Homo sapiens: one gene and its partners. The protein of the gene in region 1 purifies or fractionates together with the protein of each later gene. This does not show direct contact. Each region holds a gene or a part of one and is shown in the gene's direction. Other genes may lie near its edges. The genes, in order: FGF3, ZNF100 and CEBPZ.

The links.
Region 2: the proteins of FGF3 (region 1) and ZNF100 purify together in Homo sapiens (affinity purification with mass spectrometry; 2 studies listed by BioGRID and IntAct, with this or other methods). This does not show direct contact.
Region 3: the proteins of FGF3 (region 1) and CEBPZ purify together in Homo sapiens (affinity purification with mass spectrometry; 2 studies listed by BioGRID and IntAct, with this or other methods). This does not show direct contact.

The regions. Positions count from the first base shown.
Region 1 is NC_000011.10:69,809,360-69,812,984, reverse strand, and holds the end of FGF3 (fibroblast growth factor 3 precursor), read left to right. Parts: intron 1-2,284; coding exon 2,285-2,680; 3' UTR 2,681-3,017; downstream 3,018-3,625. UniProt on the Homo sapiens protein: Plays an important role in the regulation of embryonic development, cell proliferation, and cell differentiation. Required for normal ear development.
Region 2 is NC_000019.10:21,765,476-21,769,225, reverse strand, and holds the start of ZNF100 (zinc finger protein 100), read left to right. Parts: upstream 1-1,646; 5' UTR 1,647-1,796; coding exon 1,797-1,799; intron 1,800-3,439; coding exon 3,440-3,532; intron 3,533-3,750.
Region 3 is NC_000002.12:37,221,472-37,225,121, reverse strand, and holds part of CEBPZ (CCAAT/enhancer-binding protein zeta), read left to right. Parts: intron 1-1,720; coding exon 1,721-1,952; intron 1,953-2,558; coding exon 2,559-2,742; intron 2,743-3,650. UniProt on the Homo sapiens protein: Stimulates transcription from the HSP70 promoter.

The DNA.
Region 1 (3,625 bases):
GCCAACACCTTCTGCCCTGGTCATCTTGGCCACCCCAGGTGCCCTACCACGTGTCAGCAATTGATCTACACTGCCCCCAATCTCCCACCTTGGGAGAGCCTGAGCCCCCTGCCACCTGAGGCTCACAGGCACCTGTCCTTCAGTGACCCACCCCTCAAGTGGCCCCCCAAAGAGAAAGCCTATTTCCTGGCCTCTCTGGCCCTGAGAGGACTCACCTGCTGCAGGATCGAGGGACCTGGGAGAAGCTTGGGTCCTGCCCTGAGCTTCTCACAGTCTGCCATGGGAGCCAGACACTAACATGGTGTACCCAGTGTGTGGGGTGGGGAAGTCGGCCCTGAGCCCACCCGCTCATTCCCAGATAGTCGCTGAGCCCCAGGCTATGTGGGGGTCAGGCACAGATCAGACACTGTTCTATCCCCTGTAATGTAGGGCCTGGCACCACCCCTGGGCCTCAGTTTCCCCATCTATAAACATGGAGACCGGTCTTGGATAGTAACATCCAGACTGTGGCCCAGGGGGCACTGGGCCTCCAAGAGGGCTGGAGAGCAGGGGGGCTTGGGGTTATGGGGAGAGGCAGCCCCTACCACCAGGTCAAGCCTTCCACCCTTCCCTGCTCTGGGCTTTCATGTCGCTGAAAAACAGGATGGGGTGCTTGAAGCATCTTGTTCCCTGAGGTCCTGCGAGGTCAGATGCTGCTCGGTCCAGTCTGGGAGCCTCTGGAGGCCATTTCCACTCTCTCTCTCTGCCACGGGACACCACACCCCAGATGGGGACAGACCATGAGGGCCTCCGACTCCTCCCTGCGGCCAGTCCCCAGGAGGAAAGAGAGATCCTGCTGTCTGCCTTGCACCTGCTGCTTCCACCTCCCACCACCCTTTCTGGTTTGGAGGGAGCAGCTCCTGTCAGTCATCCCCTGAGGGAGGTGGCCCTAGGCATTACCACTTGCCTGTAGCTGGGACTGAAGCCTAGTGGGTCTGCATAAGGCATACCCACCTCTTCCCTACGCCACAGACTAAGAAGACCCCATGAGGCAGCCCTTGAGGGAAACTCCCACGGCCAAGTCTTGGGGATGTTGGTGTAAGCTCCTTCAGTTCAGAGCTTCACTGTGCCTTTGAGAGGGCAGGGTCCCTTCTGCCCTTCCCCCACTGCACCCTGGGCCTGACAAGGGTCCCATTAATCTCTGATGACAAAGAGGTGTCCTCTCTGTCCTGCTTGTGGTGGGACACCCCAGCTTCTGCTCTCATCCTAAGAACAGCAGTATCTGTGGCACTGATTGATCATGTGCCTCATGCCAGGCCCCAGCCCCTGCTCTGTGTTGTAACCTCTTCAACCTGCAAGGCGAGATCCTCCAGCTTAAGAGAGTGTTGCTCAGGGGTCAATGACCCCAGCTGGGGCCCCTGAGCGCAGCGTTTAATGGAGAGTCTGGGCTCATCAAACCTGGCTGTGTCCCCTTCCCTTCCTGCTTTTTGTGTTCTTTCTTCTTTTTTCTTTTCTGCAATTTCTTTTTTTTTCTTTTCTTTTTTTTTTTTTTTTTGAGTCAGAGTTTTGCTCTTGTCGCCCAGACTGGAGTGCAGTGGCACAATCTCTGCTCACTGCAACCTCTGCCTCCCGGGTTCAAGTGATTCTCCTGCCTAAGCCTCCCAAGTAGCTGGGATTGTGGGCGCACGCCACCACACCCGGCTAATTTTTTTGTATTTTTAGTAGAGACGGGGTTTTGCCATGTTGCCCAGGCTGGTCTCGAACTCCTGACCTCAGGTGATTCACCTGCCTCGGCCTCCCAAACTGCTGGGATTACAGGCATGAGCCACCGTGCCCAGCCTCTGCAATTTCTTTAAAAGAGATCTGGGTGTTGTCATCTTCCTTTGTCCAAATGCCCAGTCCTTGCTGACCTCCACACTGCCAGCAGACTGCCAGGGCACCTGGGTTGGCCGGCCTGGTCTCTGCTCCACAGACAACCCTACACATCCCTTTGCTGTGTCAGCGCCCTCAGATGGGGGACAGAGGCTGGTGGAACCCAGAGAGCAGGAGCTGGGAGTTGTCTGGCACAGCTTTGAGTGAAGGTGACCTTTAGGCAGAAGGCCAAGTTCACCAGGCACACAGGGGAGGAAGGACATGCTGGGCAGAGGGCAGGGCCTAGGCAAAGGTGTGACTGGCTGAGAGTGCGCTGGGGTTTGGCACTGGACCGAACAGCCTCACAGGAGGGGAGGGAGGCATCAGGCAACCCTGGGCCCTGACGCTGCCACAGTCTCCCCGGGGCACTGACCATGATATCTCATCCCCGCAGGAGCACTACAGCGCCGAGTGCGAGTTTGTGGAGCGGATCCACGAGCTGGGCTATAATACGTATGCCTCCCGGCTGTACCGGACGGTGTCTAGTACGCCTGGGGCCCGCCGGCAGCCCAGCGCCGAGAGACTGTGGTACGTGTCTGTGAACGGCAAGGGCCGGCCCCGCAGGGGCTTCAAGACCCGCCGCACACAGAAGTCCTCCCTGTTCCTGCCCCGCGTGCTGGACCACAGGGACCACGAGATGGTGCGGCAGCTACAGAGTGGGCTGCCCAGACCCCCTGGTAAGGGGGTCCAGCCCCGACGGCGGCGGCAGAAGCAGAGCCCGGATAACCTGGAGCCCTCTCACGTTCAGGCTTCGAGACTGGGCTCCCAGCTGGAGGCCAGTGCGCACTAGCTGGGCCTGGTGGCCACCGCCAGAGCTCCTGGCGACATCTTGGCGTGGCAGCCTCTTGACTCTGACTCTCCTCCTTGAGCCCTTGCCCCTGCGTCCCGCGTCTGGGTTCTCAGCTATTTCCAGAGCCAGCTCAAATCAGGGTCCAGTGGGAACTGAAGAGGGCCCAAGTCGGAGCTCGGAGGGGGCTGCCTGCAATGCAGGGCATTTGTGGGTCTGTGTGGCAGGAAGCCGGCAGGGAAGGGCCTGAGTGCCAGCCCTGGCAGACTGAGGAGCCTCCCAGGAGCAGCGGGGCAGTGTGGGGCTTTGTGTCATCACAACATTAAAGTATTTTATTCTACTCTGTCGTTTGGTAGACCGTGATGCAGGCTGAGGAGCGCTTGCCGCCTTTACTGGAACGTGCTTGCTTCCAGCACAGCAGAATCCGCGCTGGCATCAGCCTGCGTCAGCTGCTGCTTTAAGAGGAAGACGGCATTCCCAGAAATCGGGCTAAAGGTGCATTTCAGTTCCCTGGTTTTAGAAAGTTACGTTTTTTTGGATGGTTGGAAACAAGCAAAGGCATGTTTGTGCATGTGTGTGCATCGTGTGTGTGTGCGTGGAGAGAAGGATCGTGTATTTCTGAAAGCGTGAGTGTGCATGTGGGTATGTGTGATCTTGTGTTAGTGGTACCTGTGTGAGGACATGTATGTGTGTGTGTGTTTCTGGGTGTGTCTGAATGTGTGATGTGTGTGTGTCTGTGTGTGTGTGTGTGTGTGTGTGTGTGTGTGTGTGTGTGGAGAGAGAGAGAGAGAGTTTACTTTCTTTGAAAACTCTAAAAAGCCTCTCCCTCTGGAAGCTGTGTGCTTCTCCAGGGACCCTTTAGAGCAACTGTGTCAGGTCAGGCAGCACAGAAACTTCCTTTATCCTTACAACCTGCTCTTGGGGCCCGTGCACCCTGTCTTTACCTAA
Region 2 (3,750 bases), on another chromosome or scaffold:
CCTTATTTGCTCAGGTCAACAGAAACCTGTGAACATGACAGTGGGCCAGTTTGGGGCCCAGGCTCAAATGGTATTGACTGCTTCTCTTTTTCTTTTAGAATGCTGCCATCTCCATGAATAATGCCCATGTTAGCCAGCTGGAAAATAAGATACCATGAAGAGGAGAAGCAAGGTGCCCCTGTTGACAGACCCAGGAGCAGAAGCTCACCCCCAGATGCACAGCTGTCTAGTCAAAAAGCAGGTGATGATACATGTCTGAAGGAGCTCAGCTGAGACCAGAAGAATGGCCCCACTCAGCTCGGCCTAAATGGCCAACCATTTCAATTATAAACTAATAAGTTTTGGATGATTTGTTATGCCTCAATAGCTAACTAATACATGCACCCAGTACAGATAAGTTGCCAGGATTCAGTGACAGGTTGACTAAGAGTTGGCTTCTAACAGTGGACACCCTCTAGGTACTGATTTCTTCCCCTGATTTAAAGTTCGATGTTTTGTAAGAGAATTTTGGGTAATGCAGAAATACCTGTAGACATGTATGCGTGTGATTGGTGCTTAGACTCACATAGTCCCCCACACCACAGGAGAAAACAGATAAACACAGCCTGATTGTTAGGGCCAAGACCATATAGCAAACTATGTTTGTTTTTAATCTATTTTCTCCATCTCTAAATACTGGAGTTCAAGTGTGTGGACAGAACTGAAGACATAGTTGTTTTTTCTCCTGTGGCCCCATCATCCTTTGTTCACTATCTGGTCTCTAAAAGAAAGGTGGGCAACAGGTGGCCAGCAGTTGTTTATTACCTGTGGCTATTTTATTCCTACTGCCCTCAGCTCTTTCTATGGGAACTATCTGGTCCACCCTAGGAACCAAAGAGAGATGTTTGTAGGGAGAGTCTCTTCTTTCACTCTCGCAGGAAAGAGATGTTCAGGCCCTTCACACCGCTGACATCAGAGCTGCACTTCAATGTGACAGCTATTGTCCATGTGTGGCTACTGGGTTCCCACAATGTGCCTGGTCTGAAATGCGATATGCTAGAAAGGTAAAATACAAAGTCAGCTTCAAAGATTTAGTTCCAAATATTTATATATTTTATCAATAATTACATATTTCTCACACATTAAAATGATAATATTTTGAATATAATGGGTGAATTACATTGTTAACAATCAGTTCAACTTGTTTCTTTTTAAAGTTTGGCTACTAGAAAATTTCAAATCCACATGTGGCTGACATTCATTTTAGATGATTTTCTCTTTTCTAAAATCTCAGGCTGCCTGCTCAAAGGGCCAGAAGCCAGGAAGGTCATAAAAGCTGAAATTTTAAAATAATTGTTATATTCTTTTCACTTGTGTATAGCTATATAATGTATTATTTATTTATACATATGACCTTATACACAAATTTAAAGGCAAATACTCTCTGGGATGGGCCTAGCTCAGCTGAGGGAGGAAGCCCTGTCAGAAGAGGGGGCAGTCTAGGCTGTCACTCTTTCTTCATTGAACCCGCATCTGATCACATCTTCTGTCACTCAAAGCCTGACAGGGCGGGGATTTAAGCATTATCCAACCAGGGACGCTGGGCTGGAAACCGTCCAATCAGGCATGCAGCTGGAGCGGACTGGACGGCTTCCGGGTTTGGCGGGGTCTTTGTCTCTCGCTGTAGCCGGAGCTCCAGGTTTTGCTCTCACTTCTCTGTGTCTTCTGCTCCTAGGGGCCTAGCCTGTGTGGCCCTCTGACCTGCAGATATTGGGAGATCCACAGCTAAGACGCCAGGACCCCCTAGAAGCCTAGAAATGGTGAGAGTGCCCGGTCCGACATCCCGAGAGACGGCGAAAGGGCTGGTTGGAACTGGTGGGAAGTAGCTGTGGCGGGACTCAGGCCTCTCCGCAGTCAGCTTCACAATCTGCGCCTTGCCCAGCTCGGCCTCCGTCCCCTTCGGCCATAAGATGGCGGCTGCGCTGACAGCCAGGACCCCAGGCGTCCTTTCTCTTCCCTGCGTAGTGACTGTGCCTTGGCCTGGAGCCCTCTCTTGGCAGCTCTGCACCCGCAGCGCCGCGTCTCTCTCAGATTGTGCAGGGACCACGGGAGGGTCGTCAGGGGAAAATCCTGACTCGGGGTGCGGGTTCATGAATGGGAAGATCTTTGGTCCGTGGCTTTCCCAGTTCCTCTTTTCTCCTATTAAAAATGTATGGGAGTCACTGCACAAATATTAACGATTTTTTTGTTTGTTTGAGACGGAGTCGCTCTGTCGCCCAGGCTAGGGTTTAGTGGCGCGATCTCCCCTCACTGCAACCTCCGCCTCCCGGGTTCTGGAGATTCTCCTGGCTCAGCCTCCCGAGTAACTGGGATTACAGGCGCCTGTCACTGGGCCGGCCTTATTTTTTTGTATTTTTAGTTGGGACGGGGTTTCACCTCGTTGGCCAGGCTGGTCTTGAACTCCTGACCTCGTGATCCGCCCGCCTTGGCCTCCTAAAGTGCTGGGATTACAGGCGTGAGCCACCGCGCCTGGCCTAAAGAATTTAATCAAACAGTGATTCAAGAATCATAGAGTATCCAGCTATGGTTTGTAGTTTGTTGTCTATGGGAGAGGCTTGAAGGAAAGTCATTTATAAAATGTATGATGAAGAAAACTAAATTTAGTAATTGGTTACAGTAACGTAGTTTCTTGATTTGTACAATACAGGTGAAGATTTCCTGGTTGTGTAATCAGAGGTTAATTAACAGTTTATAGTTGTTTAAGCCTACATTTTCTCTGAATGTAGTAATTAAAAAAAAAATGCACCTGAGTTAGATTTTTTTTTTTTTTAAGTAGGAACCCAGGGACTAGAGACACCTCAGTGGAATTGCCTGTCTCTTAATTATTTTCACACTCCACGGGGAACTGATTTTCTGCTGCATTTTTCACCTGTGTCCCAAGCAGGTTGTTAAGTCTAACCCCCGTCCCCCATTTCTCCAGCCTCACTCTGGCTTGCAGTAAGATACTAAATTTCCAATTTCTTCTGGCGTTCCCAAATGTCAACTTTTCCTTCCTAATTCACATTATCACCTATTTGTCCTTTAGTGTACTTGTTTATACCATATTTTAATTAATTGTTTTTGACAAAGCATTAAATGGCGCTTTTAAGAAGATGTGTTATCCGCTTGTAAATATTTCCCACGAAAAGGAAACAAAGACTAATCCTCTGACACTGTATTGTAGAAAATCTCTGTGTCTCTTTTCCTTTTACCTTCTCTAGGCACAGAGATTTATCAGAATGTTTTTGGGTCAAGGTTTTGATTTGGAAAAATCTATGGGGTGATGTGTCCTCAGCCACCCTTTAGTTTTTTCCTGGTCCTGGGTTTCAGTACTATCTGTGGATAAACCGAGATATCCGCCATGGTTCTGTCAGCTAAAGTGCCTAGTGAATGTCAGCTTCTGGTTTATTTTCTCCCGTAGGATGACCCGAGGTATGGAATGTGTCCTCTCAAGGGAGCAAGTGGATGCCCTGGGGCTGAGAGGAGTCTTCTGGTGCAGTCTTATTTTGAAAAGGTAACCCCTTGAGACATTAAAATTGTCTTCACCCAACCCAGCTTTCATTTCTTGGAGACACGTTGCTGGTCAGCCAATCAGATGCTGGTATTGAGGGGAAACACAAAAATAATTTCTGCTCCCTGGATCATCTAAGGGGGGCAGAAAAATAGTGAAATAAATATAAAGAAAAATATTGGAAAAAAAAGTGAAAATTTTGTTACCAAAAAGTATTCCAA
Region 3 (3,650 bases), on another chromosome or scaffold:
CCAAGGCTGAAAATGTAGAGGTTTCGGGATCTTGAGTTTTGTTTTTGTTAGTTTGTTTGTTTGTTTGTTTGTTTGTTTGTTTTGAAGGGGGGTGGTTTCATTATTTTGAACTTTTGATGGTCATAGGAATTTTTGATTTTTAGAAAGTGTTTGAAATCTATTAGAAAACATTTTTCTGTCTCTATTTAACATCATAGTCTAACATCTCTGAGGAAGGGTGGATTTTTAAGTTTTTGAAATTACTATTTGCCAAAAGCGCTCACAGATGGAGTTTCTTAACAGGCCTTTAGGCCTTCTTAAAGTGTTTGTTTGCTCTTGGTTTTATTAGGAATCCTTCACATTAAGAAAACCCCTAGTTAATTGAGGGATAAAAGAAATGACATGATTTGGTTTACAAAAATATTTATCAAAACATTAGGAAAATATTTCATGAAATGATAGAGACATGTCTCTAAATTCTTCTCAGATGTTTCTGTTGATGTGAGATGTAATTTATGCCTAATAATAAATTGCAAAATGGATGGAAATGTTGGAAAATTTAAATGTAAAGAGGGAAAATTTAAATGTAAAGAGAGAAAATTGAATAATCCAGAATATCCCAGAATATTACCAAAAGGGTGATATTTCCCAGAGTATTCAGAGCAATAGGAAAGTGCTTCACAAGCTTAAGTATTTTTCATTTCTAGTGTTAGTAGGAAAAAATTAATGGAAATGCTTAAAACAAAGGAAGTAATGATTCCAGGTGTTAATAGAGCTAATCTGGAGGATTGTGTTAATTCTGGGTGTCCTAATATCTGCAGGTCTAGACCGGTTGGGGACATGTGTAGGATTCAGCACCTAGGATAGAGAATTTTTAAAGTATCATGAGATCAAAGTAGAGCAGCCTACAGAAGACAGACATTAGGGAGAGACAAGCACATAATAGCTAAATAGGTTCAAGTATTTGGAAAACTGTCATGTAAAGGTATTAACTGCCAGGCACTGGGGTTACAACAGTGAATAACAGGCATAATCCCTATTTCATTGGACCTTTAGAGAAGAGGGAAAGGCAGGAAAATCAAGTTTGTGAAACTATGAAGAACACAAACATGGGACTGAGAGACTAATAGAAGAACCAATTTTGGATACTGTGGACATGCAGAGAGTTGGAGAGAAGCACTCTGGGCAGTGAAAATAGCGTGTATGAGAGGAATGTTACACAGCTAGTACATTGGACTAGAGATTCTCTGAAGTCCTTAGAATTTAATTTTCTGCTGTTCATCGATGGTCTTCACTAAAATCATGAAGAGGCGGCCTCTGGTCCCCCTGCTAGTAGGTAGTTATACAAGGACAAAAACCCAAATCTTCTAATGTTCTGCTTTCATGGGTCAGTTTTCACTATCTGGTTTTAGATTAGCTTTTCTGGTGGGGTTCTGTAAATACTGTTAGGGCTGTGCCCTGTTGATATAGAAAACAGAAAAACACTTGGAAAAGACAAGAAAACCACACACTCAAAAATGCCTATTCCTGTGTCTGTTGCTGTTGGTTTTTCCTGGTGCCATCATCATCCTTTTCTGGTCATTGACTTCCATCTTACCTCTTAGGGCAGGGTCTCTTGTTCTAAAATAAGCAGCAAAGTTATCCCTAACTAAGATGAGGTTAGTAGCTATTTCTAATATGTGACCATTGGTTGTGGAGATGGTTTTATACATAAATATTTGACCTTGGTTTTGTTTTGCAGGAAGATGTTGGATCCAGGGTTGATGACGTGTTCCAAGCAAGCTATGTTTCTTAACCTTGTCTACAAATCTCTGAAAGCTGACATTGTGTTGCGCCGGGTGAAGGCTTTTGTGAAGAGGTTACTTCAAGTTACTTGTCAACAGATGCCACCATTTATATGTGGAGCTTTATATCTTGTGTCTGAGATCCTTAAAGCAAAACCAGGTTTAAGAAGCCAACTAGATGATCATCCGGTATATTTTACAACTGCTTTTTAAATTGAGTGGGTGCTGAAATATATTGGTTTTTGTTTTGTTTTTCTTTGCTTCAAATGACAGTAACCTAGTTCTCTGGAGCATATGAGTGTGAGTTCTGGAATAGGACAAACCTAGATTTTAGTACCAGCTGTACAGTTTACTAGGTGGGCATGTTGCTCAACTCTTCTACTTGCAATAAACTGTACTATACTAGAAGCTACCATTATATGAGATTTGGAAGACTATAAAACTTAGTAGACCTCTTAAGTCTTCTTCCTTAACAATGAAATGGAAATAATAGTACCTACCTCATAGGGTTATTTACAAGTCAGAAATTTACTTGAGGGCTAATTGTTTTCAAGTATTAGAGTCCTTAAGGCTCAGGGGTTCTTAGCTCAAAACTTAACTGTGTTATGTTTAGAAATAAGGATGTAATCTCCTCTCTTGTTTAAATACCATTGATAGCCATCATTTTACTTTATTAGAACTTTCACGTTTCACCAGAGTTGCAATAAGTAAAACTCTGCATCACATAATGGAGCACAGACTTTATTGCAACTTCCAGTTGATTTATGTAGATTTATGAAACTATACTTTTGTTAGGAGTCTGATGATGAAGAAAATTTTATTGATGCAAATGATGATGAAGACATGGAAAAATTCACTGATGCAGACAAAGAAACAGAGATAGTGAAAAAACTTGAGACAGAGGAAACAGTTCCTGAAACTGATGTAGAAACCAAAAAACCAGAGGTTGCTTCCTGGGTGCACTTTGATAATTTGAAAGGTGAGTTTTTTTCATCTTTATTCTCTAGGGAGTTTGTTTCTCTTTGATTTTCATAGAAAATAGCATTCTACCATTTTATTTACTTATTTATTTATTTAGACAGAGTCTCACTCTGTTGCCCAGGCTGGAATGCAGAGGCGTGATCTCGGCTCACTGCAACCTCCGCCTCCCAGGTTCAAGTGATTCTCCTGCCTCAACCTCCCAAGTAGCTGGGATTACAGGCATGTGCCACCACACCTGGCTAATTTTTGTATTTTTAGTAGAGGTGGAGTTTCACCATGTTCGCCAGGCTGGTCTCAAACTCCTGACCTCAGGTGATCTGCCTGCCTCAGCCTCCCAAAGTGCTGGGATTACAGGCGTGAGCCACTGTACCTGGCCCACAGTTTCTTAAAGTAATGTTTTAGGGATAGAAAACTTTCTGTTCAAGATAGAAACGTTAAGTGGTTTTCTATACACACACCAAACTAAATTAAAAGTCTATTAATAGAATGTTAGAGTCAAAAAAAAATCTTAGAAATGCAGCCCCTTCATTTGAGGCTGTGAAGAAAACACCAGCCTTGAGGTTCGAGAAATGTGGTGCCAGACCCATTTCTTCAGCTTGCTTTGGGACTCACAGTCAAATTAATTCATCTACAAATTTCAGTTTGTGAAGTACAAAAGAGAAGTCTGATAGCTGCCAGAAAAGTTTGAGAAGAATCCATCAGTTCCCCTGAAGACTAAACTGAGAATAATCCTTTAGAAGGATGAAGAGCTTGTGTGTTGGAAGGTAGTCAGTTCCTAGTTTGTTCTGAAAAATCTTTGTTTTAAATTTTTTTAATCCTGAGTTTCTAAAAACATGAAGATAATGTCAGACCTGTTCCAAGTGAGAATTATTTCTGGGCATACTTTCATGACAAATATTTGAAGCA